2 linked regions of the Homo sapiens genome follow. Each later gene encodes a partner of the first gene's protein in a complex. Each region holds a gene or a part of one and is shown in the gene's direction. Other genes may lie near its edges.

Region 1 (3,925 bases):
TCCAGCCTGGGTGTCAGAGCAAGAATCAGTCTCAAAACAAAAAAAGAATAGCCCATAAACTTAGTTGGTAAAGCATCAGTGGGGTTTCAAAGGAATGACTCCCATTTTGAAAGAGGTACTACTATGAATAAAATGCTACCAAACAGCATTTGCATTCCTTTCATGAAAGGAAGAGTTGACCCATGTAACAAACTACTTTGTCTTATTTTAAGAAATTGCCATAGCCACCTCACCCTTCAGAAAGCACCACTCTGATCAGTCAGCAGCCATCAATATCAAGGCAAGACTCTCCTTCAACAAAAAGATATTATTCACTGACAGTTCAGTCGATTTTTAGCAATAAAGTATTTTTCATAAAGGTGTGTACTTTTTTTTTTAGATATAATGCTGTTGCACACTTACTAGACTACAGTATAGTGTAAACAGAACTTTTCTTTTTCTTTCTTTTTTTTTTTTTTGAGATGGAGTCTCGCTCTGTCGCCCAGGCTGGAGTGCAGTGGCGCAATCTTGGCTCACTGTAAGCTCCGCCTCCTGGGTTCACACCATTCTCCTGCCACCACGTCCAGCTCATTTTTTTGTATTTTTAGTAGAGACGGGGTTTCACCGTGTTAGCCAGGATGGTCTCGATCTCCTGACCTCGTGATGTGCCCGCTTCAGCCTCCCAAAGTGCTGGGAATACAGGCGTGAGTCACCATCCCTGGCCGTAAACAGAACTTTTATATACACTAGGAAACCTGAAAGTTCATGTGACTTGCTTTATTGCAAATATTTATTGTGATATTTGCTTTATTGCTGCGGTCTGGAATCCAACCCTGCAGTATCTCCAAGGTATGCCTGTATAGGGAAAAACATGGTATAATCAGCCCTCTGAATCCTGGGTTCTGCTTCTGTGAATTCGATCAACCACGCATCAAAAATTTTTGGAAAAAAATTGTACCTGTACTGAACAAATAGACATTTTTTCTTGCCATTATCCCCTAAATAATAGAGGATAACAATTACTTACATAGTATACATTGTATTAGGTATTATCAATAATCTAGAGATGACTTAAAATATATGGGAGGATGTACATAGGTTATATGCAAATACTACGCCCTTTTGTATCTGGGACTTGAACATCTGCAGATTTTGGTATCCATAGGAGGGCCTGAAATCAATCCCCCAAGGATACCGAAGAACGACTGTATATATAGGGTTCAGTACTATCCTTGATTTCAGGTATCCACTGGGGGTCTTGGAATGTATCCTCTGCAGATAAGAGGGGACTACTATAGTCTTTGAGAAAGAAGTGTGTGTTACTGTTTTGAAGCCACATCTCTGCACTTTAAAGCTGATCCATATGATATTGCCACATTTTAGTTTAAAGTTTATCCATATATTGTTGTATTTTTTATTGTATACTCTAGACTTTGTATGAAACAAACCTACTAGAATGTAAGCTTAATGATGTCGGGAACATTGTCAGTCTTGTTTATCACTCTACCCCCAGAACTTGAGAGTACTTGGTAAATATTAAATGAATCAATTAACAATTTTTTGAAGTGCATAGCTCATTTTAGAAAAATTTGCATTAAAGTGTTTAAAATATACTCACAACCTTTCTTTGCATTGTTGAAACAAATGAGATATTCTATAGTCTAAATGTGTAATCCTATGTTTACTGTTCTTTCTGGGTAAATTTTTTGGTAGTATAATTTGTTGTACCTAATTGGAGTGTATTTTATCTTTCTTTTAAGACACATGCCTGGACATACAAGTCGAGAAGTACTAATCATCTTTAGCAGCCTTACAACTTGCGATCCATCTAATATTTATGATCTAATCAAGGTAGACCAAAAAATCAAAACCAAAGTTATAACTGTAAAGAGAATTCTGTAGCAAATTGATTTATATATATATGTATTTTTGTATGTGTGATTCATCTTTGTGGTAGATGTATTGAATTTATTACTAGTTTTCAGAGCATTCTTTATTTTTCAAATACATTAAATCTTAAATGTTTTTCTTCTTTCCTAAAACTATCTATCTACTTGGATTTTATGAAGACCCTAAAGGCAGCTAAAATTAGAGTATCTGTTATTGGATTGTCTGCAGAAGTTCGCGTTTGCACTGTACTTGCTCGTGAAACTGGTGGTATATATATAATTTATTTAATATTTGCTTATAATTACTGTGTAGGAAATAATTTATTAATTAAATTAGGATGTTTTAATCTGTTCTGAGCTACTAAACTTAAAGTAGTCTAAAATATGGGCAGTCATCTTAAATATATCATTGATTCCATAAGAAATCATCTCCAAATGCAAAGAGTTTTCAGTACTTATGTCAGTATTTAGAGGAGGTATTATAACTCTTGGAAAGCTGGAAATTTTACTGTATGTAATTCTTTATAAAGATTTTATAACTTGTCTTTAATTAAATTGTAATTACAGGCCAGGCATGATAGCTCATGCCTGTAATCTCAACATTTTGGTAGGCCAAGGCAGGAGAATCACTTGAGGCCAGAAGTTTGAGATCAGTCTGGTTAACATAGTGAGACCTGTCTCTATTTATATGTTAAAATAATAATAATAGTAATAATAATCAATTGTAATTATAGTTATTCCTAGAGAAGTTGATTTAGATATATTACTTAAATAAGGTTTTAAAAGTGATAATTTAGCTAAAATCATTATTTTAAAAATGTACATTTTCAGATGATACAACTTTTACAGAATTACATAGAACGTACAGTTCGTTATGTCTATGAAGGTGTTTTTTTTTCCCTTTTCATCTTGTTAGGCACGTACCATGTTATTTTAGATGAAAGCCATTACAAAGAGTTGCTCACACATCATGTTAGTCCTCCTCCTGCTAGCTCAAGTTCTGAATGCTCACTTATTCGTATGGGTAAGTGTTTTTATGTTTTTAAAAAATACATATCTAGGCTCTCCATTTTCATTTGCACAAGTTATTTTAATATTTAAGAATTTTTAAAGAAAAAATATGCTTGTTGAAGCAATTTTGGAAAGTACAGAGAAGTGGAAAAAAAAAATTAAAACTACCAGTAGTCCTGTCACCCAGAAAATACTGTTGGCTTTCTTTATTTTTAAGGCTAGAAAGGTATAAACTGTGTTTATAGAAAAATACTTATATTAAGCCGGGCTCGGTGGCTCACGCCTGTAATCCCAGCACTTTGGGAGGCCGAGGTGGGCGGATCTTGAGGTCAGGAGATCGAGACCATCCTGGCTAACACGGTGAAACCCCATCTCTACTAAAAATACAAAAAATTAGCCAGGCGTGGTGGCGGGCGCCTGTAATCCCAGCTCCTCGGGAGGCTGAGGCAGGAGAATGGCATGAACCCGGGAGGCAGAGCTGGAAATGAGCCGAGATCACACCACTGCACTCTAGCCTGGGCGACAGAGCGAGACTCTGTCTCAAAAAAGAAAACAAAAGAAAAACACTTATATTAAAAATTTTTTAAAATAAGCTACAAAGGCCGGGCGTGGTGGCTCATGCCTGTAATCCTAGCACTTTGGGAGGCCGAGGCTAGCGGATCACCTGAGGTCAGGAGTTTGAGACCACCCTAGCCAACATGGCGAAACCCTGTCTCTACTAAAAATTACCAAAAAATGGCTGGGCATGGTGGCAGACATCTGTAATCCCAGCTACTCAGGAGGTTGAGACAGGAGAATTGCCTGAACTCAGGAAGCGGAGGTTGCCATGAGCTGAGATTGCGCCACTGCACTCCAGTCTGGGTGACAGAGCAAGACTCTGTCTCAAAAAAATAAAATAAAATAAAAATAAAATAAGCTACAAAATTCTCTGTACTGGATGATCAAAGCTGTGTAATGCAAACTGTGCAAAGACAAAGCTTGCAGGGAAGTACACCAAATTGCTCAAAGGAGGGGAAATTATTGGTTTTGGATCACTTTTTTTTTTC
Region 2 (3,925 bases), on another chromosome or scaffold:
ATCCATCTTGTCTTTATAAAAACAGTATAAAGCAGGCAGCAAATGAATCTCATGGTAAGGTATTTCAGAAAATGCTATGAAATGAAGCATCTTAGCTAACTAATGGTTTATCTTTAGATTTCTAGAGAGACTTAAAAGATGTGGGCATACCTTCCTGCCTTTTCATTTATGCCATTCTCTTGATACATTCATGTATGTTAATAAAAATATTGCAAGTTATTGATGACATTTGTTGATTTTTTTTAGCTTAAAATTTAGTAACTCTGGGTTTGAAGGCCACGGTTATTTTTGTTCTATGCATGTTTGTGTTTTTATTTTGCCAAATAGGAAAGTTAGATTGTCTTTTCTGTCTTTGGACATAAGTGCATGGGAACACCATGGTATCACTTTAATTGGTGGATGCTATTAAAGGGACTAAATTCTGTCTAAAAATACCATGCTGGTGTTTATGATAAATTTAATGAAAAGAGCTTGTCATGAAACAGGCACAGTATCTAAATTTTAGGAAAACGTAGGTGCATACATATGAACGAAAAACACAGAGCATATATGAAAATATAGTGGTCATTGGGTATTGGGAATGCAGGTAATTTTTTTCTAACGTATCTTTTAGTGAGCAAATATTTTGTAAAAAGGAAGAAAAATTGATCTCTTTAGTGTGATCTCTTTGAGACATGGGCTTGTTGGTGAATAGTACTCACTGCACAGTGGTTTGGTAAGGTTTCAGTGCACAATGACAATTTATGATACTTTTAAGTATCTTTTTAAAATCTGCATAATTCAAACTGCTTCCTAAGTTTAGTGATGTTTATTATGAGGAAGAGGAAACAGATAAATCCTTGTAATGCCATCCATCTAACGCTTTTCTCCTTGTTTCGGGCCACCTGCTCAATGTGTGATGTATTAAAATTGCCTTCTAACTTACTGTCCTGCTTCTGCCTTCCTTGCGTGTTCTCCTTGCATACAGGGATGGCACATGGGAACTCTGCCTCTAATCTCAATCCCTTTGTAATGTGGACACATGGTAGTCCAACTGATAATCCGCTTTTACCTTGGTGATTCAGTTGTTTAAAGAAAAGTTTTTCTGTTGTGCATGGTGGCCCACCCCTGTAATCCCAGCACTTGGGGAGGCCGAGGTGAGTGGATCACTTGAGCCTAGGGGTTCACGACTAGCCTGGGCAACATGGCAAAACCCCATCTCTACAAGAAATACAAAAATTAGCCAGGCAGGCAGTGGTGGTGCATATCTGTAGCTGCTCAGGAGGCTAAGGTGGAAGTATTGCTTGAGCCCCAGAGGCAAAAGCTGCAGTGAGCCAAAATTGCACCACTGTACTCAAACCTGGGCAACAGAGTGAGACCCTGTCTGAAAAAAAGGAAAAGAAAAAAGAAAAATTTTGTCAGAGGCTTCAGAAATGAATCATTCTCTTGAGCATTTGCTTACTTTAGACAGGGTCTCCCTCACCTAGGCTGGAGTGCAGTGGTGTAATCATGGCTCCCTGCAGCCTCAACCTCCTGGGCTCAGGTGATCCTCCCACCTCAGCCTCCCTACAGGCACATGCCACCACGCCCAGCTAATTTGTTTTTGTATTTTTTTGTAGAGACAGGGTTTCACCATGTTGCCCAGGCTGGTCTTGAACTCCTGGGCTCATGTGATTTTCCTGCTTAAGCCTCCCAAAGTGCTAAGATTACAGGTGTGAACCACCATGCCCAGCCTTTTTTTAAATCTATCACTAAGATTATATGATCACTATACTCTGGTTGTTTATGAGCATTTAAATTAATTTTTATATAAAAAATTAAAAAGTTAGCATAGTCTAGGTGGAATTCCTTCCGTTTTCTCTGTTCTTTGCTGTCCTCCTGATCAAATACTTAGCGGAGCACTTGGAAGCTTTTAAAGTCTTCTATGGAGATTAATTTTTGTTTGTTTGTTTGTTTTGTTTTGTTTTTTTTTTGAGATGGAGTTTCACTCTTGTTACCCTCTTGTTGCGATCTCAGTTCACCACAGCCTCCACCTCCCAGGTTCAAGCAGTTCTCCTGCCTTAGCCTCCTGAGTAGCTGGGATTACAGGCATGTGCCACCACGCCCAGCTATTTTGTATTTTTAGTAGAGACAGGGTTTCTCCATGTTGGTCAGGCTGATCTCAAATTCCCAACCAGGTGACAGCCCGCCTGGACCTCGCAAAGTGCTGGGATTACAGGCATGTGCCACCATGACCAACTAATTTTGTATTTTTAGTAGAGACGGGGTTTCTCCATCTTGGTCAGGCTGGTCTCAAACTCCTGACCTCAGGTGATCCGCCTGCCTCGGCCTCCCAAAGTGCTGGGATTACAGGCCTGAGCCACCACACCCGGCTGGAGATTAATGTTTTAAACTGATGCGTCTCCCTTATCATCCCCACAAAAAAGGAGAAACTCAGAATATTTGCTATCTTTCTAATTTTCATAGCAGTAAATAGTGAATATTGAGCACTTAGTACTACTTTTTAAGCACTTTACATGCACTGTACATGGGTATTATAATAGCTTAGTCTTTATAATCTTTAAAATATGAGGTTAAAGAGAATTTTAGAGCTGAGGTAATAAAGACATAGAAATGAAGTAATATTCCAAGGCTAAGCAGCAAAGGGCAGAGTTCACACCCCTGACTATTATATTAATTGACTGCTAGTACCGTAACTTCTAATTGCTACAGTAACTGGTTTCTGCCGTTTGTTTCTTTCTGTTTGCTGTGTATACACAAAGATGAAATGGTCTGGTTCCTTCCTACTTTCAGCTTCATCACACTTCACTGAAAAAGGTCATGTTTTACAATTGGAGTGTAGAACAAACTCTGATGTGCGTTTCAGTTCTAGCTATGTGATCTTAGGCTAGTTAATCTTATTTGTAAAGTGGCAATAAAATTGGTACCTACCTTTATAAGGCTGTGAAGATTAAGTGAGAACATTTACAAAAGGGCACAGTGAGTAGTATGTGTTAAGTATTCAGTGTTAACTTTTGTCTACTCTGAAGGTATTGCCAGACATTGAGCTTTCTCACCAAAACAGTAATAATAAGGTTTACTTGTGTCTGCTTTTATTGGACATGATATATTTAGATGCTGCCTCTTTGCTTAAAGAGAAAAGTTTGCCTACCAGGCTTTCTTCTCACGGATTCTAGGCTTGAGGTTTATTCTGTATAAATTATTTGGCCAGGTATGTTTTTCATCAGATTGTTACTTTGAAACAGAAGCTTAGGCTTATTTTCTGCGAAGCATTTCCCACGCAAACTTAGTGACATTTTAATATGAAATTATTTGCATTAATACCATTCTAAAAAATGTTTTCTCTTTTTTTCCCATGCCTATTGCAAATTTTGTGCAAAATCTGGTTCTTAATCATTATTACATTGGTTTACCTTTGCATCACATATGAATAGCTGTACTTTGCTACTTTTGACTAATACTTTTTCTTCCAAGAGTTAGAATATCATAGCATAATGTTTCAAGAGGATTATTGTTAGATTGGCACAATAGTTAAAGGAATGCTTTAGGACAAATGTCTGAAATGTGATATTTAAGCTTGGTCCTAGATGTCCATGTTGAGATTTCCTGGGAATAAAATGGCTTAGTTGGGCATTGGACAGTGTAGTTAAGTAAACCCTATCTTGACAAAATGATTCAGATATGTGCTTATATTCTTAGGTGACCGGGTTATTGATGTGGGATCTGAATGGCGAACTTTCAGCAATGACAAAGCAACAAAAGATCCATCTCGAGTTGGAGATTCTCAGAATCCTCTTCTGAGTGATGGAGATTTGTCTACCATGATTGGCAAGGTAATAAGTCCATTTGGCAGGAAATACCAATTGCAGAGTGACCATAGACCTGAGAGTTTGGGAACTTTGCAAAAGTATCAGTCACTGCACCAGTGGGGAATCTTGACCTGTCT

What was found.
Region 2: GTF2H2 (region 1) and GTF2B share a complex: the UniProt entries of both Homo sapiens proteins name them as parts of the TFIID-containing RNA polymerase II pre-initiation complex.

Annotation. Positions count from the first base shown.
Region 1 is NC_000005.10:71,046,973-71,050,897, reverse strand, and holds part of GTF2H2 (general transcription factor IIH subunit 2), read left to right. Parts: intron 1-1,739; coding exon 1,740-1,830; intron 1,831-2,048; coding exon 2,049-2,136; intron 2,137-2,784; coding exon 2,785-2,892; intron 2,893-3,925. UniProt on the Homo sapiens protein: Component of the general transcription and DNA repair factor IIH (TFIIH) core complex, which is involved in general and transcription-coupled nucleotide excision repair (NER) of damaged DNA and, when complexed to CAK, in RNA transcription by RNA polymerase II.
Region 2 is NC_000001.11:88,863,868-88,867,792, reverse strand, and holds part of GTF2B (transcription initiation factor IIB), read left to right. Parts: intron 1-3,678; coding exon 3,679-3,812; intron 3,813-3,925. UniProt on the Homo sapiens protein: General transcription factor that plays a role in transcription initiation by RNA polymerase II (Pol II). Involved in the pre-initiation complex (PIC) formation and Pol II recruitment at promoter DNA.